Regions from separate parts of the Homo sapiens genome. Here all the other regions are linked to region 3. Evidence: fine-mapped expression QTL. A gene starts in region 3. Each other region holds a variant in brackets. All regions are shown on one strand. Distances are between the middles of the regions.

Region 1 (8,178 bases), 75 kb before region 3:
CATTCACTGAGTGCTTACTCCCTGCTGGACCTGTGCCCAGTATTCATATGCTTTGTCTCATTCCTCACAACGCTTTCCCATACTGCTACTCTAATTAGCTGGAGCACTGTAAAGAAGAGGAAGCTTAGGAACAAAGAAACTTGGCGAAGCTCACTCAGCTAGTTCATTGTTTTTTATTTTTTATTTTTATTTTTTTAGAGACAGGGTCTCACTCTGTCACCCAAGCTGGTGTGCAGTGGTGCAGTCATAGCTCACTGCAGCCTCGAACTCCTGGGCTCAAGTGATTCTCCCACCTCAGCCTCCCAAGTAGGTGGGACTACATGCACTCAACACCATGCTGAGCTAAGTTTTTAAAATAATTTTTTTTTTAGAGATGGGGTCTCGCTATGTTGCCCAGGGTGGTCTTGAACTTCATTCCTTCCCTACCCACCAATCTCAACCTGGGCTCAAGCAATCCTCCTGCCTTGGCCTCCTAAAGTGTGAGATTATACACCTGGCCAACTCAGCTGGTTTATAAGTAGCAGAGCTTCATTCAAACCCAGGTCTGCCTGACCCCAGCACCTGCATGATGTGTAGCCAACGTCTGAAATTCTTCCCCAAGACAAGCTGAGGTCCTCCCACCCCTGCCCCTCTCCCCCCGGCTGGGCCTAGATTTTATATACCTCATTGTCAAACATTGAGCTCTATTTTGGGACTTGAAGCCTAGGCATAAACTTTAGCTCCTTCTTCTCCTCCAAGCCAGCTCACTGCTGAGTCCTTCTGGGCATCCACCCTAGGAATGTCTATCCTTATCTTTGCCCTGTCCCAGCTCTCCGACAACCATTGCTGCATTCCCCATCTCTCACCTGGTCTCTGCACTGGCCTCTTCAGATCTCCAGCCTCCATTCCTTCCCTACCCCCTAAACTCAACCTAGCTGCCATATTGCCACCCAAGTGGCCACCCAGTCACTGCAGTGCTCTAGAACTTCATGGAATTAGAACAATCTTTAGACCCTTCAGCTGAACATCAAGCCCCTACCCAGACTTCTCTTCCTTGCTCTCCGTTCTCATCCTTCCCTGATTCCTTTCCCCAGCAGGCGTGACTGGAAGATGCTTGGAAGGTCCTCTGCTCAAAATATGCTCCAATTTCAGCCACCCTCAACACTGTTCAATGCTAGGAATCCCTTCCTACTCAGTTTTTCAGGTTCAAACACTGAACACTGATAGGCCCTATTAAATGTAAAAGTTGACTGTACCAGGTCGCAGACTTGGCCTTTATTGGCTCTTAATTCTTTAGCTCAATTTAGATAAGCTCAGTGTTTCCCAAACTGTTCCCTGGAGGTCTCCTGATCCTTGACATGCTAACATGGTACGGGAACACATAGGAGATACCACCTTTTGGAAATTCACCAACACCCTCACCTCTTAAAGCCTCTGGGAAGTCCTGCATCATGAAATTTGTTTAGATTTCACCCTGAATTTGCTTAACATGCTGCAGCTTTTTAGCTCTATTTATTTTCTACCCCCACATCCCTTTCTTCAACTCCATCAGGTAGAGTCATGGGCTCTTGGAACCTTACCTTTGCTCCTATGGGCATTGCTCGAGGGAAGAAAAAAAAGGGGAAAGAGGTGAGAACCAATAAAGCTGAAGAAATGAGCAGGCCTAGCCACCAGGCTCCAATCCATCGGGGGTCACCCGGGACCAAGTTAACTGCAGCTGAAGAGAAAACGAAGAGTGCAAATGTTTGTTGAATGCATGATCTCACCTTACTGGAAACAGAACCTCTGATCAGGGGGAGTTTCACTGATTTTCTTCCCAGGATGCAGAAGAGGCAAGCCATGAGCTAGATTCTTGGTCAAAACAACATTCCCTCTCCCAGCTATTGGTCTTCCCAGAGGACCAAGGCCACTGCACATGAAGCACAGCATCAGAAAATCCCCGGGCAGGAGGGAGCAGTACCTTCACCTCCTTATTCAACTCCCAGCCCTTGGCAGAAGTAGTGAAGAAGGGAGCTGACTCTCACTCACAAGGGCACACCATGGGCCAGACTCTAGACCACGTGCTTTCCATCTGTTTTCCACTGGGTTCTCTAGCAAGTCTGCCCACCTCTCACCAGTCAAGAAACTGAGGATAGAAGGGGTTAAGTCCCTTGCCTCAGGTAAAGGCTAGTAAGTGCCATTTCATTGGTCAATTTCAAGCCTGTGTCTCCCTGGTATGCAAACCTGCCCTCTTAACCATTAAACTACTGCCTCCCAACTTTATGGATCCCTAACAAAGGAGGCCCCATAATCCTTAGAAGCCTAAAGAAACAACCATCAACTGTGTGAACTGCCTGGCTTCCAAAGGAGCAGCTTTCTCTTGGCAATTCTCTTGCACACGTGTAAAAGTCTGCCATTGTGTTTCTCTGTGTAAAGAAACTATCCGGGCATAAAGGGAAGGAGAAGGTGGCAGAACGGTTCAGTCAAATCATGACAAGCTTCCCTGGGCACTGCCCTGAGTGGACTGGGCACTCAGTTGCTGGTCTCTTTGGGCAACCAAGAGCCAGGAACCAATTCGGGGAGTGCCAGCAAAAGGACAGGGATGGCTTGATCCTGAGGCATAAGACACCCCCTGGCTTTCTACTTTCATTGGAAGTACAGCCAAATGACACCATGCAGATGGCACTGTGGTCTGACAGTCTTAGGGACGGGAGTCTAGGCTCTAGCAGCATGGTTGCAACTAGCACCTGCCAGATATCTGTGACGTGACTTGTTTGCAGGGCAGTGGTGGGAGTGCTCTTCCTGGAGTCTGGCTCAGTCCTGCCTTTCAGCCACCCCTTCAGCCGAGCTGGAACTTCGTATCCCACCCACACACTCCCCACATTCTCCACCCTACAGCACTTTGCCTGTCCCTCTGTTGTGGTGCTGACCTTCCCCATCTTGTGGGAGACTGGGTAGTGTGGGACACACTCTCAAAGGCAGGAAGCCCTTGCTCCATTCATCCTGGGGCTGGCTCCCTGAATGGTTAACTCAGAACTTATGCTGGTGTCTAGGGACTATATATTCTCATCCATACCACTTGTTGAAGAATACGAACTCATACTGTTGACTTCTTAATATACATTAGGCTTGTTCTGATCTTTAAAACAACTTTATTTTACTATCATTAGCTCCATTTTACAGATGAGGAAGCTGAGGCACAGAAAGACAAAGTTACTTGCCTAAGATCACTTGGCTAGTAAGAGATGGAGCCAGGATGAGACCCAGGCAGTCCCGTCCCAGCGCCCACACAGTCAAACACCATGTTATACCCTCTGGATGTGAGTCATCATCCGTGTGTATATTTTATATGATGTTTCTTTTTTTTCCTCAAAAGAGCTCTTATTAAATCTTAAAGAACCAGCAACATCTTAGAATCAAAGAACCATAGAATTTTTTTTTTTTCTTTCAGACAGAGTCTCACTCTGTCGCCCAGGCTGGAGTGCAGTGGCATGATCTCGGCTCACTGCAAGCTCTGCCTCCCAGGTTCACGCCATTCTTCTGCCTCAGCCTCCTAAGTAGCTGGGACTACAGGCATCTGCCACCACGCCCGGCTAATTTTTTTGTATTTTTAGTAGAGACGGGGTTTCACCGTGTTAGCCAGGGTGGTCTTGATCTCCTGACCTCGTGATCCACCCGCCTCAGCCTCCCAAAGTGCTGGGATTACAGGCTTGAGCCACCGCACCCAGCCCATAGAAATATTTTTAATGCCACCAAGATGGGCGCTGTGGTGGCAACACCTGAGGTCCTGCCCTGGGTCTCCAAACTTCTTAAGGGCAGAAAGTGAGTTTGCTTCAGCAGCTTGTTCCTCACAGTGGCCAGCGTGGGCCCTGAGAGAGGAGGCACACACTGTCTGCTCCTGGCTCTCCGAGGGACTGCAGGGATGAGTGAGCGAGTGAGGAGGTGGCAGAGCGCATCTGGAGCTGAAGCTTCATTCTCTGTTCTGATTGGATGAGGGGGCTGGGGGCTGCTTTATTGAGCTGGGGATGGGAATGGGTGTCCTCTGCACATACTCACCTGTGTTGACCCTGCCATAGTCCACAAAGATCTGCAGCATGACAGAGCCCAGCAGGTACCCGAAAGCCGGTCCAAATACAGAGATGGCAAATAAGATGGCTGGAAAAGGAAGTAAGGGGAAGGAGACTGAGATAAATGGAGAGAGTTTGGCAGCCTTGGGCTCCCAAGCTGAGGGGGAGTCTTGAGATATCACTTCATCTGTTCCCAAGCCTGATAAGCCCACACCTGTGGCATCTCCCACCAGCAAGGCCAGAACCACTCAAGATTCCAAGACATATAGAACCAAGGCTATTTCTTCCTCCAGCCAACTTCCAAAGAGACCTGCTTGCCAGGAAGGAAACAGGCTCCAAGGCATTTAAAAATGCCAGGTGATGCTCCCTGTGGGTACGATGCTGGGGGCCCTCGGAGGAGCTCATGGTGCCACAGAGCCTGTGGGGGTGGTCTGTGTGGTCTGGAGTATAGGCCCTGAGGATGCTCAAAGTGGTGTGTTCTTTTTTTTTTTTTTTTTTTTTTTTTTTAGATGGAGTTTCACTCTTGTTGCCCATGCTGGAGAGCAATGGTGCAATCTTGGCTCACTGCAACCTCTGCCTCCTGGGTTC[G/A]AGTGATTCTCCTGCCTCAGCATCCCAAGTAGCTGGGACCACAGGTATGCGCCACCATGCCCAGCTAATTTTTTATTTTTAATAGAGACGGGGTTTCTCCATGTTGATCAGGCTGGTCTCGAACTCCCGGCCTCAGGTGATCCGCCTGCCTTGGCCTCCCAAAGTGCTGGGATTACAGGCATGAGCCACCACGCCCGTCCCAAAGTGGCTTGTTCGAAGGGAAGGATTTGGGCATTCACGTGGTCATCTGCTATCTGCTTTGCATGGGCTTCTTTGAGGCCAACCTGCTCCTAAGTGGATGTCTCAGAGAAGATATGTGTGTCCTGGCCTGTGCCTGAAGGACTAGTCAGAGAGCAACAGTAGGTGCTGTTGGTTTAGGGTCCATCCAGTGCCCAACACCAGCTAAGTGGTTACATATGCCATCTCATGTATCCCACAGCCATCCAGCGCACAGATAATATCAGCCTCCTCCTGGAGGTGAGAAACCTGGGGCCCTGGGGTTCAGCCATTTGCCTCAGATCACACAGCTGGGAGGTAATGGAGCTGACATTCAAACCAAGTCTGTCGGATCCCCAGGCCTCTGAACTCATTTGCTGGGTTGTAAGCAAAGAGGGTGGGACCTCAGTTTAGTGCCCCAGGGCCTCATCAAGTGCTACATCAGGACCTCACCCCTCCCCAAAGCCCTCTTCAAGCCGGTGACTCACAGATGTACAGGGGCGAGTTGCTGGGCTCTGAGAAGTCATCCACATAGGAGATCCCAAATGGCTGAATAGGCACTGTCCCGATGCCAGCCAGCAGCTGGGCAACCACCATCAGGCCCCACATGCTGCTGGTCTCCTTCTGGGGGTTCTGGGTGGTGCTGTGGCACTTACTGGGAGGCAGGTCCTGCCAATGCTTCTGGCAGAGCTCGGCCTGCAAGCGGCTGTTGTTCCCTGCAACGAGAGTGCTTGCTGGTCTCCACCACCCTGGTCTCCTGGTTCCACCGGCTGGCCTCCAAACCCGGCCTTTCTCCCAGGCCCCTTGGGGAAGGACCAACTTTGGCCAGAGGCTGTGCTAGCAAATGGGACATGGTTCCTGAGGACCGCGTCCTTCTGTCTGGCCAGCAGGAGGGACTCTAGAAACAAAGGTGTGAAAGAGAGGTGGAATGTGGGCTCCCCGGCCCCAGGAGCTGCTATTTCTCAGGTGGAGAGGAATCTTCCTCTCGTGAGTGTCCATGCCTTCTCCTCCATGGGCACTGGTGGGGAGCTGAGCACGGAGAAGTCAGTACCTTCATCTGTGGAGGAAAGGGGCACCCAGCTGGAAAAGGGGGAGGGGGTCCAGGGTCAAAGCCCAGGCCCGTCGGCCTCCAGCACCCTGTGCTCAGCCCTGGGGCTCTGGGCCCCCAGGGTTCTCTTCAGCAGGACAGAGGTCATGCTGTTGCACCGGGTTGGTGTCACCTACAACGTGGGTTGAGTCCCTGGTTGTGACTCCCAGGGCCTTTGCTTCTTAGTGAGCCCAGCTCCAAGTCACACTGGAAGACCTACTGCCAAAGACATTTAATATCCTTACCGTTCCGGGGAAGCTCCCAGAACTTCTGATGCTGGAGGGGCTTTAAGACCCTCTCGTTCAGCCTCTCATATTACAGATGGGGAAGCTGAGGCTGCTTCTCGAAGCCCTTCTGTGAGGGTCCCAGACACCCTGGGTGAGGCCTGTGGGCACTATGGTTCCTGTGGCTGTGGCCCTTGCCAGGCTGGGCTGCCGCTTCCATGCCTCTGTTTTTAATTTGGCCCACACTAAGCAATCAGCATTGGCAGCTCTCCAAGGCCTTAGGGGTTCTCGAGGGCTCCTTTCCATGAGATCCCCTTTCCCTGTCTCATTCAGGCTAATGGAAACCACTGACGTCACCAATCTCACTCGCTTAACACTAATGGGATTCCGTTTAATTCTCACTTGTGCTGCCCTGAGCTAGGTGAGCCTAAGTCCCACAGAGAGGAAAACCGAGCGCCGTAGACTAGCCCTGCTCCTCACACTGGACTCTGCCGGTGCTGTTGGGCTCAGGGCTGCCCTGGATGGTGGGGCTGGGGAGAGGGGTCTGTGCTCTTCATTGCCCTTTCCCCTCTCCCCAGTCGCACACGCCTCGTCCAGCCTGGCCCCACTGTTGTCTGCCCTCTCCAGTGGTGTCTATGCAGGACACATTAGAAAGTTGCTGTCATGGGAGCTCCCCCATCAGTCAGGGAAGCCTGTCCCAGGAAAAGGAAAGGAAGCCAAGGCGTCTGTTTGGTCAGGGTCATCTAGACCTTCAATAGTTGTGTCCGTGGAAGGAAGCATCCTGGCAAGCAGCCAGGGACTGTAGTCAGGGTCCCTCTGTACCTCCCTCTTCCCACTCCATGTTCATTATCCTGCCTTTCAATGCAGAATTCAAATAGAGTGGCCCGACCACATGGTGATATAATATGCAACCTTTTAGAATTGGGGTGAAAATATAGCCTTTTTTTTACACAGAAAGACAGCTGGAACAGCTTGTTAGAATAAAAAAATAGTAACTAGTAGCTTGGAGAAGAATATGTTCCCTAATTTATAAAACGTTTGTGGACTACTTGAATATGCAGAGAAAACCTCTGGAAGATGATGGCTCTCTCTGGGTGATGAGATTGTGCTGATCTTTTTTTATTTGCCTCATTTATTTTGTAATTTGTCTGGAATGAACACATTTCTTTTGTGTTAAAAGAAATACTTTTGAAATAAAGCAACAAAGTTTTTAAATTCAAGGTTTTTGTAAATAAATATATCCAAAGCTTAACAACGTCTCTCCCATTTCTTCTTTGTCCCATTCCCATTGCCCTTCTTTCTGCTCTAGGCTCTAGGCCTGCAACAGTGGAGCTGAGTCTCTGCCCATCCCCACCAACCACAACCCATCGCTGACGTCACCGATCTTGCTCACTTAACACTGATGGGATTCAGTTTAATTCTCACTTGTGCTGCCCTGAGCTAGGTGAGCCTAAGTCCCACCAGAGCCCACCACCACCTCTCCCCCGTGGAGTGTTGGGCCTCTCTCTGATTTACAGGCTCTACCGTAGAGATCCAAGTCCTAGCACCAGAAATGTCAAACACCCATGTACTGACAGGGCCAGGCCCTGTGCCAAGGTTGTGATGTATGTGGTCTCCTGCTCACAGGGGTTACTGTGAGCAGGAGACTACATAAGACCATACCTAAGTAGCTGGTTTGGGGGTAGAGCTGGGATCCGAACCTGCATGTGTCTGACTCAAAGTCCAAACTGAAATCAAGTCTGATGGCAGCTTGAAAAGACAGAACACACATTTTTCAGGGATGGAAGAACATGGCATGGGAAGATTTCCTCCATCCCTAGCCACCTTCAGACATATGAGCTCTCTGACCTCTGTAGGTGGCTGGGACCTTACACCTACTTCCTCTCAGGAAAGGGGCTGGCTGCTGGGATGTGTGCTAGAATCTGGGACAATAAGATGAAATAAACACAGTACAGGGAGTTAAGAAATTGGCTTTATCCCTAGGTAAGATAAAAATTGGTTTTATCCCTATGTATTCTTGAGCAAGTTTCTAAATGTC
Region 2 (8,178 bases), 31 kb after region 3:
GAGAAAGAAAAACACAAGCGGCTATGGAAGTGTGAGCTCACAGTACCATCCAGCTAGAAACTGTCCTATAAGGCCGTGCAATGACCGCCGGGGGCCTGAGGGCTGGGTATCAGTGGGGTTGACCAGAGGTAATCCCACTCTCTAAAACCTGAGACAGCGGGGTTACTGCCAGGAGAAGCCCTAGGCCACACTCTAGTGTAGACCATTGACAAACTCAGCTCTTTGCTATGGGGGTTGCAAGTTCCTTGCAGAGCCTATGATGTGTGATGGCTCATGCCAGCGGGTGTAAGCACTAGGTTAGGACCACCAGGTCAAACGTTGATGCCTGGTTCAATTTGAATTTTAGATAAACAACCATTTCTTAGCATAAGGATTCCATACTTAGCAAATATTCCATACTTGGGATATACTTATGATTAAAAAATTATTTATTGTTTATCTAGTATTATTTATTATGTTGAGCTGAGTGTCTTGTATATTTTCACTTGCTAAATCTGGGGCCCAGTTAATTCATTCCACAAGTGAGATGTCATCATGCTGGCATTTCATTTCAGACACACGAAGCATTTCAGTTGGATAAAAGTAAACACCAGCCAAATTTAATGTAAAGATTAAGGTTGGTAAACTGAGTCTAGGTGCTTTATATCAAATGTGTGATTGTTTCTTGGTTTGAGGCTGCAGATGTGAAACATTTAATAGAAGGACTCAAAGAGAGAGAATTCTTACTATTAACTTGATTTCTCCTGTGAATTGGGAAAGACTATCATTGTTTTATCTGAAATGCAGAACATACTCATTCTAACTGGAAGAATGTCAAGAACCCACCAGGATGCATCTTGTTAACACAGGCTGGAAACGCAGATAGTGGCCCAGGAGGGCGGCCTGGGGCAGCCAGCAGGGCAAGCTTCAGGCAGAACTGAACAGTTTACAATGGCCATGAGACAGGGCAGTCAGCGGGGGAGGGGAAGGCCTGAGGCTGCACAGCACCTATAAAAGGTGGGAGAGTGTGAGAGTGCATGTGTGTGTGAGCATGTGTGAGAATGTGAGTGTGTGAGTGGGTGTGTGGGGGTGTGTGTGAGAGAGAGAACGAGAGAGTGTATGTGAGTGCGAGTGAGCGTGTGTGTTTGAGAGAGTGAAAGTATGTGTGTGAGAGACAGAGAAAACGAGTGTGAGCATGTGAGTGTGTGTATGAGAGTGTGAGTGAGTGTGCGAGTGTATGTGTTTGAGAGTGTGTGTGAGAGAGAGAAAGAGAGCGAGAGAGCGTGTGTGTGTGTATGTGTGTGTGGTGTTGGCACTCTGGAGCATGCAGAGTCCATTATGAGTGTGCAGCAGGGTCCAGGCACACTCAGACTTGGGAGCAGGGGGAGCTGGGGATCCATAACCCAGGGGAAAGCTGGGTCTGCTGCCATGGCCTTTGCAGGAGGGACCCTACAGGGAGCAGGCAGGGCCTGTCTGAAGGGTTGAAGTCTCAGGCTGAGAAGCAGGGGTTGATTACCCTGGGAGAAGCCTGTCAGATGATTGGAGCCCAATTGGAAGTGGTTGGGGCCTGTCCAGTTGGCTGGGGCCTGCCTGGCACCTGACCAGGCATGAAGGGACAGTGAGGGCAGGAATGAAGTGGCCAGGGAGGGCCAGGAAGGCATCTCTGGGTGGACAGAGGTGCTGGGAGCTATGCTGTCTGGCATAGGCTGTTATTATGTAGGATGGAAATTTAGCTCCTACCTCTACCTGCTGTTGGCCAATCAGCCAGATGTCTCCCATCAATACTTGGCCTGAAAGCTGGCTCTCACATGAATCGTCTCTTTGGATGAATCATGTCTCTCCTCGGAAGCTGCTTTCTCATCAGCCCAAATGACAGGACCCAGAGAGTTACAGCTTGGTGTGCTTGGGGAAGTCACAGCTTCTCTCCTGGATGGGCTGGCTGATCACAGCAATTGGCATGGATCCACAGGCAGTCCCTGAACCTAGAATGTCTCCATGCAGGATCACCTGCCTTGGCCCTGCACCCTCACGATAGTGCCTGAGACTCGGGCACACATCACACCAGTCCTGCCTCACCTTTCTCAGGGAGTCTGAAAGTGAAAATAACTGGCAAGAAAAGTGAAACTGCTTCTCCTCCCTCCCTGGGGGAAGGGACAAGGAGCAAGCAGCAAGCCTAAGTGGCCGAGGAGGCAAAGGTCAATTTGTGCCCCTTGAAATGGAAACCCAGAGGAACCTTTGCGACTTCCTCATTCCTAGTCTCATCAGCTGTTCCTGAATGGCTCTGGTTCCTGGAACACAGCAGGCCCCAAAGGCTATCATTAGAGCCCTGTCAGCCAGGTGACCCTGGTGGCCTGCCCCGCCCATTCTACATGAAGGCCAGCTGAGCTGCTGAAGGTAAAGAGAGTGGCTGCGCACACGAGCCACAGGCAGAATCACATACACACTTGGACATGCGTGGCCATGAACAGGATCAAACACACCTGCATACATGCATCCATTCTCAGGTGCACACAGCTAGAGACACCCTCACCCACAGCTCTCCGACACCACACACACACACACACACACACACACACACACACACACACACACAGCTCTCCCTAGGTACAAGCCCACACAGACACACATAAACATGCTTTCCCCCCAGCCCTGCCTGCGTAGCATCTCTCCTGGCACAAACACACAGGCGCCCATGGCCACGGGACATAGCGCACTCTTGCATGTACACCTTTTCCTGTCCACACACATGCCCAGTTGCCCAGTTCATAGACACACAGTCAGCTGTGCAGCTGCACAGCTGGCTATGTGTCCTCTGGACAAGAACACCAGCTTCTCCCTCCCCTCCAGTCTGGAAATGGCCTCCACCACGTCTCCGTTGGGCAGCAGAGCAGTGCCCCATAACTGCATTTTGTCCAGTTTGCACTGACCCAAAGGGCACTTGAGATCCAGGCCCTTCAAAGCTCAAGCCAACCATTTGCTGGCTGCTTTTCCCATGTGGGTTTAAATGCAGAGTGGCTACCTGGGCTCTCTGGTATTGAGAAAGTTTTCATTTCCATGCTAGAGAGGCTCTTCCAAGCTGCGATAAACACAGGCACACTCCAGTTACTTTGAGTCACGAATGTTTATTGTAAAGGAGAAAGGACAGACAGATGGGCAGGACACTATCAGTGCAGTTAGGACATAGGGTTTAGGATTCATTCAAAGGCAGCCTTAACAATGAAGATAGCTGGCAATTGTTGAGCATTTCCTCTTCCTGAGTGCTAGGCATGGCCCCAGATACTCTGTGTGCTTTATGCTGGATGCTGGCAACAGTCTCTTGGAACAGGTTGTCATCAGCATCCCGATTTGAGGAGGAGGACGTTACGGCTTAGAGAGAGAGGTTTGTAACTTGCCCAAGTCCCACAGCTAGTAAGTTCAGGGCTAGGGTGCAAACCTAGCTGTCAGGAGCCCATCAATGTACCCCAGGAAAACCACTCTGCAGAGGAGACCCTCTATTTTGCTACTGCCCAGATGCTGGCATCCATGGCTCCTGCCCTGGGGGATCTGTCATTCTTATGACACGGCTTCCCTCTGTGTCTCTCTCTGCTTCCCACTCTCCTTCTCTGCTTCTCACTCTGCGTGTCCCCAGTTCAAAACTCCCTGAGAAGCCCTTCAAGGTCAGTTGGATTTCAGCACATGTAGAACCACTCTGAGGCAAAGGAAAGTAAACACTTGCCTAGCTAAACCCACGTGCCTGGGGCTGCCTCACCAGCTAATGGCTGCCTTTGGGTGGGACAGTCAGCTGCCATCTGGGCAGCAGGTCACAGCCCATATAGGACCCCTGTGGGTGGAACAGACATCTACAGACCACAGAATGTCTGATGTGCTTTCAAATACTGTTATTGGAAATCTTTACTGAACATGTTTCTTATATTCCTGACTTTGTAAGATTTATCTAGTACACATAATTGAACTTTTTAAAATTGGTCCGGATTGTATGACTCCCAGGATATCATTCTGAATTCCAACTGGATCAGGCCACAAAAGTAGGAGGTATGGAGAGCTATTTTGTGGTGACAACCAGGAAATTCCCTAAACGTCTTTTAAAAATACATTCCTGCTTGGTTATTTGCCCTCATTTTAATGTGGAGGCAACAATGAGAAGGAAAAGTCCCTGGCAATGGGCTCCAGGGAACTTCGACTTCATGGTGGAAGCTGCAAATGCAGGCAGGTCCCAGCAGATGTGGCTCCCTTCTCCCAGGTGCTTCCAGGCAGGCTGCTGAGAACCATCTGCCCTGGGGGTCTTCCAGGGACTCCTCAGACATGTGGGCTCCGGGCCAGCTCCTTTGTTGCCTCCCTACCCTGGAGCTGCCTCCACTGATAGAGGACAGAAGATGGATGTCTCTGGTCGCTCCAGCCCCACAACACCCACAAACACAGGCTGCTAATCCAGTCTTGGAACTGTCAGGAAAAGCCCATTTTCATTTGATCCTTTGCACAAATAGATTAGAGGCCACCGACCTTGACGTCTGAGCATTGTTCAGCTTGTGTTAGAAAACATCCATATTTAGGGCGGTTGGGAGAGGCACGGAGGAGGGAGCAAAGGTCCAAAACACTCACTGAGAAGACTTGACCAGGACTGAACATTCACACCCAAGCTAAAGTCTGAACTCTGAGCGCCATCCTATGTCAAAAAGGATTCCCTGTGGACCTGAAACACCCAAAACCAGCAGCTACTGGGGAATGAATGCTTTTCCAGGATCATCAGCTCCTTTTGGGCTCATCCCTTCCATGCTGACTGAGCTTGGGTGGCTGACCTTTTGTTTTCTTATATGTGGGAGGCAATTGAGAGCAAGGCTGTGAGGCTGGAATT[C/CA]AACCCCTCTCCCCATGGCCCCAGGGTGTGTCCATGTGGGGCTGCCAGATACACAGGAAAGGAGAGAAGAGCTGGGAAATGTTGACTCTGGATTTTAGGCAGCCTGGGTCCTCCCTTTTTCCTAAATCAGGACCCAGTCAAGTAAGGAGATTGCCTCTGACCATGTGCTGCAGCTTGACAGTAACATGACAATAGACCAAAACCCACAGTTACTCGAGGCAAACCTAGATTTTTAAGGGGAGTGTATGTGGGTGGCCTTATTTTACTGAGAAAAACCTTGTTTTGTTTATATTTTTCCCCTTACTTTGCAGAAGAAATAAGATCCCTTCTACCAAGGTTGTCCGTGATTTCTACTTCATTACTTGACTTGGAAACTCTCCCAAGAGGGTTGATATTCACAGTGTTGACATGTCGGTCTTGTTCTCCTGACCTTTAGCCTATATTGTTGACCAAAGCTGTTTAAAGGGCTCCCTGTGTGAAAGGAAGCTGGGGTCGGGTGATTCTCGGGAAGGCAAGAGAACAACACCCCATCTCATGACTAAATCAAAACTCAGCTCAGGACAGGAGGATCTAGGGCTGAGTGGCTGCAGCAGAGAGATGATCCCTAAGTGGAGAAGCGAGTCTGGCCCTGGCCAGCAGCCTCCCGGAGCCCTTTGCCCTCACACGGGTGATCTGAGCATCTGTGGCTCAGAGGTGATCACTTGACACAAGCAGATCTCCCAACCCAAGGAAGCCAGCGTGTCCATACAGGACATCCAGAGTGTGAGGAAGGACGAGGGAGTTTGGGCCCTGGGCCCTGGGTGCCTACCCAGCCATATTCAGGGAATTCAGCCTTCTTCTCTCTTCTGCCAATGATGAAAAGGAGAGAAGAGGCTAAACTTTTCCTCTCAATCAATGCGACCAAGGCCCTTCCAGAAAGCTCCTGCTTGTGCAACGTGGTGTGTTCCTGAGGGTCCCTGCTTAGGGACAGCCTAAGGTGCTATGGGGACTCGTTTTGAGCTACCAGATCTTTCAGGCTGAGAGACCTAGCTGGAAATCTCCAGGACCAGGGAGGCAGGGGCTGGATGGCAGGGGTTGGATGTTTGAAGCAAATGTGTATGCAGAAGGGTCTGAGTGGGAGAGAAGTGAGCAGCGTGGTTCTCTGGGCGTGCTGACATCTGTTGCATTCTGTCCAGGCGTACTGTCTTAGTTTCCCAGGGCTGCCATAATGAAGTACCTCCAACTGCATGGCTTCAAAAAGAAATTTCTGTCTCACGGTTCTGGAGGCTGGAAGTCCAAGATCGGGGTGTTGGCAGGATCCGTTTCTTTTGAGCCCTCCCTCTTTGACTGGTCGATGATCACTTTCTTCCTATTTCTTCATGTTATCTTCCTTCTGAATGTGTCTGTGTCCAAAATTCCTCTTCTTATAAGGACACCAGCTATATTGGATTAGAGCCCACCCTAATGACCTCATTTTAACTTAATTACCTCTGTAAAGATCCTGTCTTCAAATATGGTCACCTTCTAAGGTGTACTGCAGGTGAGGACTTCAATGTATGCATTTCGGGGGAACACAATTTGGCCTGTAACATCTACCTAGAGCAGAAAGCATCTTATCCCAAATGAGCAGCTTTGCAGCCCTGCCGCCAACCGAAGCCATTTCACCCATAAAGGCACAGTCCTATACTGCTCACGAAGCATTTGCACTTGTGATTTCTCCTTTAATCTCTCTGACCCTTCTGAAGTCAGCAGAGAAGACATTCTTGTCCCATTTCACAGATGAGAAGAAAGAGTTCCTGAGAGGTAAAGTATGTGGCCTTGAGCCCCACTGCCAGGAAGTGAGAGAGCTGAGCTGAGACGTGGTATCTCAGTCTGTTATCTCTTGCTATAACAGAGTACCAGGCTGGGTAATTCATAAAGAAAAGAAATTTATTTCTTACAGTTCTGGAGGCTGGGAAGTCTAAGAGCATGATGCCAGCATCTGGTGAGGGGCATCCCATGGCAGAAGGGCAGAAGGTGGAAGTGGGCATGTGAGACAGAGAAAGGAAATTGGCTGAATTCATCCTTTTTATCAGGAACCCAAAACAGTAATAATCAGCATTAATCCATTCACCATCATGACTTAATCTCTTAAAGGTCCTGCCTCTCAACACAGCTGCTTTGAGGATTATGCTTCCAACACATGAATCTTGCGGACACAGTCAGACTGTAGCACCCAGCCTCCTCACTCCTCCTGCAGAGCTCTTTCAAACTCACTGGGTCTGGACCAGAACATTCCCCCTCAAGGAGGGAAGAAAATATTTCATCTGAGAGCTTCCCATCCAAATCAGGTATGGTGACACTCTGCTTGTCCTGTTTAATTTGCCAGAGCTTTACCACAACATTTATTTGTTAAATAAAGTTGCTGCTCTCTGATGTTAGCCCGAGTCCACTGCTGTAGGCCAGGCACTCTTCTAGGCACTTCATCTGCATTATGTCTCATAGTAGTCCAGTGAAATCATATTTGTGGATGAGAAAGTGGGAACATAAGGAGGTAAAATAAAGCACCTAGTTAGTGCTGGAGGGGTAAACTGAACTCAGATAAGAGTAAGTTAGAATCCCTTGTTCTTTGCAGGGTAGTGGTCTCTGATAAATTTATTAATTCAATAAGTATCTGTTAAAGATAGCTTTATGCTAAGCACTGTTGAAGGCTACTCCAGACGCTTAGGATCAATCAGTTTACAAAACACACACTGGTCCCTAGCCTTGGGGAGCTTATATTCTACCAGGAGGAGACAAATAATAAATATGAGTAAATTATGTTACATATTAGAAAGTGAAAAGTGCTATGGAGAATACAGGTGCAAGGCAGGGGTGATCAGAAATACTGGGGGTGAGGGAAAGTTGCAATATGATACAGGGTGGTCAGGAAGTCCTCAAGGAGAAGGTGACATTTAAGTAGTGGATTAGGAGTCCAGCAACCTGCATTCCTGCATCAACTCCAGCTTGGTTTCTCAGTGTACTTGAAAAATGACTTCAGCCAGGCGTGGTGGCTCATGCCTGTAATCCTAGCACTTTGGGAGGCCGAGGCAGGTGGATCGCTTGAGGCCAGAAGTTCAAGATCGGCCTGACCAACATGGCGAAACCCTGTCTCTACTGAAAATACAAAAATTAGCCAGGTGTCGTGGTGTGTGCCTGTGGTCCCAGCTACTCAGGAGGCTGAAGCAGAGATCACTTGAACCCAGGAGATGGAGATTTCAGTGAGCTGAGATCGTACCACTGCACTCCAGCCTGGGTGACAGAGCGAGACCCTGTGAAAGAAAAAAAGAAAGAAAGAAAGAAAGAAAGAAAGAAAGAAAGAAAGAAAGAAAGAAAGAAAGAAAGAAAGA
Region 3 (8,178 bases):
AAGTGACTCTGAAGAAGACGACAAGCCCTGCTCTAGTCACACCCGGAAGCTGACTGGTCCATGCACGGCCGAAGCATGAGAAAACTCATTGCGGGACTCATTTTCCTTAAAATTTGCATTTTTACAATAAGGACTTCAACTGACCTTCCTCAGACTGAGGACTATTCCCAGTGTATACATCAAGTCACTGAGGTAGGACAAAAGGTTGCTACGGTCCTATTATTTTATGGTTATTATAAGCGTACTGGAACTCTAAAAAGAACTTGTTGTATAATATAATTCTATACAAGGTATGTAGCCCAGGAAATGACCAACCTGATGTGTGTTATGACCCATCTGAGCCTCCCATGACCACAGTTTTTAAAATTAGATTGAGGACTGAGGACTGGTGAGGGCTCACAAATGATATGAGTAAAGTGCTAGCCAAAACAGAAGAAAAAGGGGTGCCCAAACGAGTCATCTTAAAATTTGATGCCTGTGCTGTCATTAATAGTAATAAGTTAGGAATAAGCTGTGGTTCTCTTAATTAGAAAAGAGGCTATATAGCAGAAAATAAGTACATCTGTCATAAATTAAGACTGTGTGGAAAGAAATGTAAATACTGGTCTTGTGTCATTTAGGCCACTTCGATAAAAAAAAAATGAAAAAGATCCAGTCCACCTTCAGAAAGGAAAAAATGGCCCTTCCTGTACTAAGGGACAATGTAACCCCTTAGAGCTAGTAATAACCAATCCCCTTGATCCTCGCTGGAAAAAAGAGGAGCGTGTGACCTTAGGAATCAATGGGGCTGGACTGGATCCTCGAGTAAATATCTTGGTTTGAAGAGAAGTTTACAAACGCTCTCCTAAGCCAGTGTTTCAAACTTTCTATGATGAACTAAATGTGCCAGTACCAGAAATTCCAGGAAAAACAAGAAATTTGTTTTTGCAATTAGCTGAGCATGTTCTCTCAATGTCACTTCATGTTATGTATGTGGAGGAACTGTAATAAGAGATCAATGACCATGGGAAGCCCGAGAATTAGTACCTACAGACCCAGTTCCTGATGAATTCCCAGCTCAGAAGAATCACCCTGATAATTTCTAGGTCCTAAAAGCCTCAATTATTGGACAATATTGCATAGCTAGAGAAGGAAAAGAATTTACTCACCCCATAGGACGACTTCTTTGTCTAGGACAGAAACTTATAATGGTATCACAAAAACAGTCATTTGGTGGAGTTCTAATCACACAGAGAGAAATCCATTTAGTAAATTCCCAAAGTTGCAAACCGTGTGGACCCACCCGGAGTCCCACCGGGACTAGACAGCCCCCACTGGATTATACTAGATACGTAGGCATAGAGCTTACGCCAAATTACCTGACCAGTAGGCAGGTAGTTTTGTTATTGGCACTATTAAACCATCTTTTTCCTACTGCCCATAAAAACAGGCGAACTCCTGGGCTTCCCTGTCTATGCTTCCCGCGAAAAGAGAAGCATAGCTATAGGAAATTGAAAAAATGATAAATGGCCCCCTGAGAAAATCATACAATATTATAGGCCTGCTAGGCACAAGACGGCTTGTGAGGATACCAGACCCCCATTTACGTGATCAACTGAATCATACGGTTACAAGCTGTCTTAAAAATAATCACTAATAAAACCGGCAGAGCCTTGACTATTCTGGCCCAGCAAGAAACTCAGATGAGAAATGCTACCTATCAAAATAGATTAGCTCTTGACTACTTGCTAGCAGCTGAAGGAGAGGTCTGTAGGAAATTTAACCTTTCTAATTGCTGCCTACATATAGATAATCAAGGGCAAGTAGTTGAAGACACAGTTAAGAGATATGACAAAACTGGCACATGTGCCTGTGCAAGTGTGGCATGGATTTGATCCTGGGGCCATGTTTAGAAAATGGTTCCCAGCGCTAAGAGAATTTAAAACTCTAATAATAAGAGTTATAATAGTAATAGGAACCTGCTTACTGCTCCCTTGTTTGCTACCTATACTTCTTCAAATGATAAAAAGCTTCATCGCTACCTTAGTTCACCAAAAAGGTTCAGCACAAGTGTACTATATGAATCACTATCGATCTGTCTTGCAAGAAGACACAGGTAGTAAAAATGAAAGTGAGAACTCCCACTATTGAGTGAGAATCTCAAAGGAGGGGAATAAGGGAGGAGACCACCCCTCATATTGTCTTATGCCCAATTTCTGCCTCCAAAGAAAGAAAAAGTAAAAACTAAAAGGCAGAAATGAAATCCACAAGCAGACAGCCCGGAGCCGCACCCTAGCGCTGGTAGTTAAAGATCGACCCCTGACCTAATCGGTTATGTTATCTATAGATTACAGACATTGTACAGAAAAGCACTGTGAAAATCCCTATTCTGTTTTGTTCCGATCTAATTACTGGTGCATGCAGCCCCCAGTCACGTACCCACTGTTTGCTCAATCGATCACGACCCTCTCAGGTGCACCCCCTTAGAGTTGTGAGCCCTTAAAAAGGACAGGAATTGCTCACTCGGGGAGCTCAGCTCTTGAGACAGCAGTCTTGCTGATGCCCCCGGCTGAATAAACCCCTTCCTTCTTTAACTCAGTGTCTGAGGAGTTTTGTCTGTGGCTCGTCCTGCTACACCACCATGTCATACATGTCCCAAGATATGTGCAACCCATCCCCCACTGCAAAGTGGCAGGGCTATTACAAGCACTCTCATTGGGAGGAAATATCCCTTCAAATAGCAGAGCTCCCAGTTATTGCCCCAGGAGGGAAAGGTGCAAGTGACTTTAACTGATGGAATTTGAGATTCAAGATTTACCTTAAGCTATCCAACCTCGTACCTGGTTTCAGGCTGATAAGTGGAGTTAAATGGAAGTCCTCCAAACTCTGGTCTTGCAATTAGTATGGATCAAAGGAGGTGATGACTAACAGAATCTCATTTTTAGAGTCAAGAAAAACTCTTAGCCAGTATGAGTACTTAACTCCTTTAGGAGGCCAATTGGCCTGAGCCCAGCCCTCAGGTACGTGTGGTTAAATCATCAACACATGAGAAATCATCTTATTTATATAGATCTCCAAATAAATTGCTGCCATAAACATTTATTTTAGGGAACCAGGGTGGGTCTAAACGGATCAGTCTCATTCAGCTGTACCCTCACTGTCAGGAATCTGTTCTGGACACCCGTCCCTCCTGCCCTTCTTGGTGAAAATGAAGTGAGGTTGCCCCACCCTGGTTCCTGCAGAGGCCCCTTTCTTTACACCATCTAATCCTAGTCCCTACCCTTTCATCTCAATTCCTAATTTATAAATACCAAAGGTTCCAAAATTCCTGATGAAATTTCTCCAAAATGGTGGAACCAAAACTGCGCACAACATTTCCATCCAGGTCTGGCCAAAAATGAGGAGATTTGGAGATTATTTTAAGCTATCTCAAAATTTCTGTTGCTTATCCATATACAACTACAAAATCAATTCAGCCTGTATTTATTGCGGTGCGGAAAGAGCAGAAGCAGGAGTGGAGATCCCAGCTGAGTAAGTATGCAGGTGAGATCCACTCTGACCTCCAGATCCCTTTCTGTTGGACACATATAACCAGTCCACGGACACCCCCATCATCCCTTTGTGTAATCTGGCTTCCCCTTAATTGCACCACCGGAGGCTTTACTCAGTCCCATCTGACTGTATGTTTGTGGGAAACAACCTCTCTACACCATGATCCCACCCTGACCAGAAGGGGCCTTGATGCAGTCTCTGCAGTCTCCCACATCCTCACCGCAGCAGCTTTGGCCTCTCAGGAGGTATCTTCCATTGTTACTTCTGCCTAGGCAGAACGGGCAAAAGAGCCCGAGTGCGGATTGAACCATTCCAGGTCCTCCTGGACCTGTGAGGGAGTGGAAAGCATTTCCGACCCCATGGGAAAGGTGCTCTCATCCTAACAGCTGCCAACACCCTATCTTCTCACCCGCTCCCCATAACTTGCCTGGTGAGTGGACCTGCTTAGACCTTACTGAACCGTGAGAGCTGTGACCTTCCTGGGGCCATTTCCAGACCAGGGAAGCCAATCTGAGCACGCGGGTTGGTTGCCAGCCTGGGGAAGCCGCCCGCTGAGAGGGAATTCTAAACATAACTGCGAGCGGCACAGCCAGGTAGCAGAGCCCCCCGCCCCCGTTGGCGGGAGAAGAAAGCCTGGGGAAGGAGAACATCCCTTAGGCCACCCACCCCAGGACGAGGGGGCTCGGACGAGACACAGTCTGTCCCCCAAAGCGCGGGGGGTCCCCCTGGCACCTCCAAGCCCATCCCATTGACGAAGTAACCGCCCGCTGGAGGCCGAAAAAGCGTTCCTCGAGATGATCTTTTTCAATCATCGAGGACAATTCTCTCGCTTATAACTCTGCCTGGAGTTGTCCGAGTAAGCGGTAAGCAGGTACTTCCACTGTCCCATTACTTAGTCCGATGAAGGCGTGTGAACACACACACACACACTCGCACGCACACACACACGCTCACACACACACACGCTCACACACACACTCGCACACACACGCCCAGCACGCGTCGCCCGGGGATGAGATCGGAGCGCGGCACAGGAGGGAGCCCGGGGCTCCCGGAGCCTCCTGGCTCCGGCAGACAGAAGCGGGTGCCCAGCCGAAGGTGCGCCAGGCGCGGCTCCGGCCCGGAAGACCCCGCGGACTCCGCTCACCTTAATGTTGCCGAAGACCGAGCGGGCACAGCGGCCGGCTCGGCTAGTAGAGGTGTCGCTGCCCTGGGACGCGCCGAGCTTGGGCAGGAGCCCCATGGCTGCGGGCGGCTGGCCGGGCGCGGAGTGGCGCGGGGTCGGGGCGCCTCGGGCTGGAGCGGCCGGGCGGGTGAGAGGCGACCGCGGCGGCAGTGGCCGGAGGAGATTCGCGGAGCGGAGACTGAGCCAGCGAGTGCGCGCCTAGAAGTTTTTATAAGTGGCCGCCGCCGATGATGAAACGCGCTCTCCCTCCTCCCTCTTTTCCTCGGGTGTCAAAGGCGCTACGAGCCCCCGCCCCGCCGCCGCCGCCGCCGCCGCCCCCTCAGACAGGTGTGACGCCGCAGCGACCCGCGAGGCTTGACTGCCCCGAGAAGATCCCGCCTGCCGGGAGGCGGAGAGGGAGGGAAGGAGGTGGCGGGCCCGGGGAGGGGAGGTGAGGGCTGTGCGGGGGCAGGAGGTTGCAAGGGGGTGGAGGTTCCTGGGGACTGGCGAAGAGAGGGTGGGCGAAGCGAAGGTGGGTGAGTGGAGGGGATGGAGAAAGAGGTTGGCAGGGCTGGGGGGCAGGAAGGCTGGGATATGAGGGTGCCCGAGGCGGGCGCTGGAGGGGCCAACGTGAGCCGGGGGTGGAGGGGAGCCCCAGCACCCCTCCCGACGTTCTTGGGGAGATTTACGGAGCCAGTCTCTGCTTGTTTGCACTCGCAGAAAACCTGGGCCCTCAGTTCCGGTGATGGCTCTGAGACTCGCTGCAGCTCTGTTTGTGTTGAGGACTGATTTATATTTAAACTGCTCTTTGCGCTGGAGAGGGGGCTGGGTAACAAGGTGAAAAGGTGGGGGCTGGGCCCGAAGTCTCTGGACCTGAGCCAAGGTAAACTGCAGGGGCTGTCAAGTGTCAGCATGGCTGGGTCTGGCCTGGGGTGCTGGGGGGAGGGGTAGAGGGGGTGGGGGGGGTGTGGACAAACAGGACGCACCCCACTGACCTCCTTCTCAGTGCTGGAATGAATAGTGGGTTTATTTTTTCCCCAAGATTTTCTACTAACAGGATTCCAAGCGCCGAGAAGAGACAGTGAGGCTTCTCAAGGGAAGGATAAGAAGGTTCTTCCAAAAGCAGCTGCAGTGAGGAATCCAGCTCTGGAGGCATTTTTCCAGCTCCCTCACTTCTGTAGTCCCGTGCAGAGGGAACCTCTCCAAGCCCACCCCAAACCCAGGAAAAGATGCCGTCAATATCCAGGAGGCTTTGGCTAAGACAAAGGCCACAGGATAGATAGACCACATAGGCTTCTTATTCTACCCAAGACCTGATACCTTTCTGGGCCTGGTCTGGCCTGGCCTGGGCTTGGGGGCTTCTATCCACCTGCGACCCAAGTTCCCTGGACACGGCAGCATTCCAAAGATGTTGAACAGTGGGCAGCCTCTGGCCTCTTCACTCAGCCACAGAGCGAGGTACATCCTGACAGGCTTTCCACAGCACTGTAGCAGCCCCAGCCCCAGCCCCAGAGGAGGCATGAATTCCAGGTCCCATCTGTCCACTGGGAGAACATGGCACACAAGGACAGGTACCAGCATGGAGCACTTGGTGTGTGCTGGGCATACCAGGCCCTCTGCTGAGCACCCACATGCATGATTTCATGAAGCCCCAACGTTAGCCCTACAGGTATAGGTACTGATGGAGTCTGGACTCCACAAACAAGGATGCTAGAGCAGTCGGCTAAGAAAGCTGTCTGAAAGCCACACAGCTAGCAAGTGGTGGAGCTGGACCCTGAATTCAGCCTTGTCTGACTCCTAAGCCCAGACTTGAAGCACTATGCCTTCTGATAAGTTGTCTAGTCCAACAGCCCCATTTTGCAAGTTGAACCAAACAGGGACCAGAAAACCCCCAGGCCAAGGTCACAGACACCTTAGGGCTACCATGCCTGGAGCTTCTTTCTCAAACCCTGAGGCCTCACTGTGATCCTCTGGTAGAACCCCTGGGAGGATCAGCCTCTCCAGCCCTCACCTAGTCCTGTTCCATTAACCTGGCCCTCTGCCTCCCGTCAGCGCCAGCATCATCTCCAAAGGAAAAGCCTATTCAGAAATGCTCACAGATGCTTATCTTCCTTCATTGACCTTTACTGGGTGGAGTTCAGCTAAATGTAATGGAGAGCCAACCAAAATGACTTAAATGAGATTTATTTGTCTCTCAATAATTAGAAGTCTGCTAGTAGGTAGTCCAGGGGTCATGACCTAGGCCCTTCAAGATTCCTTAGCCTGTGGTTCCCATCCCTGTGGCTGGCTCATTGTCACAAGATGGCTGCTCCATCTCCAGCCTCCTCTCCTAATTCCAGGAAAGATGTGGAAGACAGGAAACAGGAAGGGGCCATGCTTACATCAAGGGAGCAAATCTCTCCCTTGCGTGCACAGTTGCTTTTACTTAAGTCTTCTTGGCCAAACCTGGGTCACATAGCTACCCCCTGCAAAGGATGCTAAGAAGTGTAATTAACACTATTGCTGTCCTCTGAACAAAATTGGGGTTTTATTAGGGAAAAAGGGAGAAATAATATTGTGTTTTACATTTTCAACACCTACACATGGAGTAACCCATTTCCTTTCAAGAGCACTCCTAGAGTCGGTCTCCCAGACTTTCCATCCTTAAATTTCAGTAAATATTTCCTAGCACTGAAAAAATACAAAAAATAGGCTGGGCACGGTGGCTCATGCCTCTAATCCCAGCACTTGAGGAGGCTGAGGCGGGCGGATCACTTGAGGTCAGGAGATTGAGACCATCCCGGCCAACATGGTGAAACCCCTTCTCTACTAAAAATACAAAATTAGCCAGGCATGGTGGCAGGTGTCTGTAGTCCCAGCTGCTTGGGAGGCTGAAGCAGGAGAATTGCTTGAACCTGGGAGGCAGAGGCTGCAGTGAGCCAAGGTCGTGCCAGTGCACTCCAGCCTGGGCTACAGAGCAAGACTCTGTCTCAAATAAATAAATAAATAAATAAATAAATAAATAAATAAATAAATAAATTTTAAAAAAAGCTAAACCACAAGAACATCTCCTGACCTCAAAGACTCTATGGTCTCAGGGTGGGAAACAAGAAGAGAAAGTGTGGCTGTGATGTAGGAAGAAAGCTATTGTGCACAGCTGCTATGGGAGCATAGAAGTGGAGCCCTAATGCACCTTGGACAGCAGGAAGACTTCTAGGAGGAGGCGACTGTCAAGCTGAGCCCTAAGAACTAGTAGGATTGAGAGGATTAGGGTAAAGAGGGTAAACCTACTCCATGGTTTCAGTCTGGCTGGAGCTCAAGACCAAGCGCAGTGGGTATGTGTGTGTGAAGCAAAGAGGCTGGGAGTTTAGGTTTTCTCCCCAGCACAATGGGGAGCCGTTAAAGGCTTCTAACCAAGGGTGACCTGGGCTAATTTGCATTTCACATGGACCTCTCTGGCAGCCAGAGTGGAATTAGGTAGTCTGTGGAAGGAATCCCAGGAG

The links. PIP is the estimated chance that this variant, and not a neighbour inherited with it, causes the effect.
Region 1: its variant is the best candidate, but not a certain one, in a credible set for the expression of SLCO2A1 in tibial nerve (GTEx, PIP 0.88).
Region 2: its variant is the best candidate, but not a certain one, in a credible set for the expression of SLCO2A1 in tibial nerve (GTEx, PIP 0.50).

The regions. Positions count from the first base shown.
Region 1 is chr3:133,949,649-133,957,826 of GRCh38, forward strand. It overlaps SLCO2A1 (solute carrier organic anion transporter family member 2A1), which reads right to left. Exons shown (of 14, transcript NM_005630.3): 4 at 5,318-5,545; 5 at 4,015-4,113; 6 at 1,560-1,696. Among named protein-coding and RNA genes, the nearest start is that of C3orf36, 24 kb to the left of the region's middle. RefSeq lists enhancers at 1-441, 5,975-6,506, 6,507-7,036. The variant G/A (reference allele first, on the strand shown) is at 4,614.
Region 2 is chr3:134,055,691-134,063,868 of GRCh38, forward strand. It overlaps LINC02000 (long intergenic non-protein coding RNA 2000), which reads right to left and starts at 1,958. Exons shown (of 2, transcript NR_135574.1): 1 at 1,720-1,958. RefSeq lists an enhancer at 400-1,206. The variant C/CA (reference allele first, on the strand shown) is at 4,832.
Region 3 is chr3:134,025,029-134,033,206 of GRCh38, forward strand. It overlaps SLCO2A1 (solute carrier organic anion transporter family member 2A1), which reads right to left and starts at 4,897. Exons shown (of 14, transcript NM_005630.3): 1 at 4,679-4,897. The coding sequence starts at 4,774. RefSeq lists an enhancer at 4,892-5,392.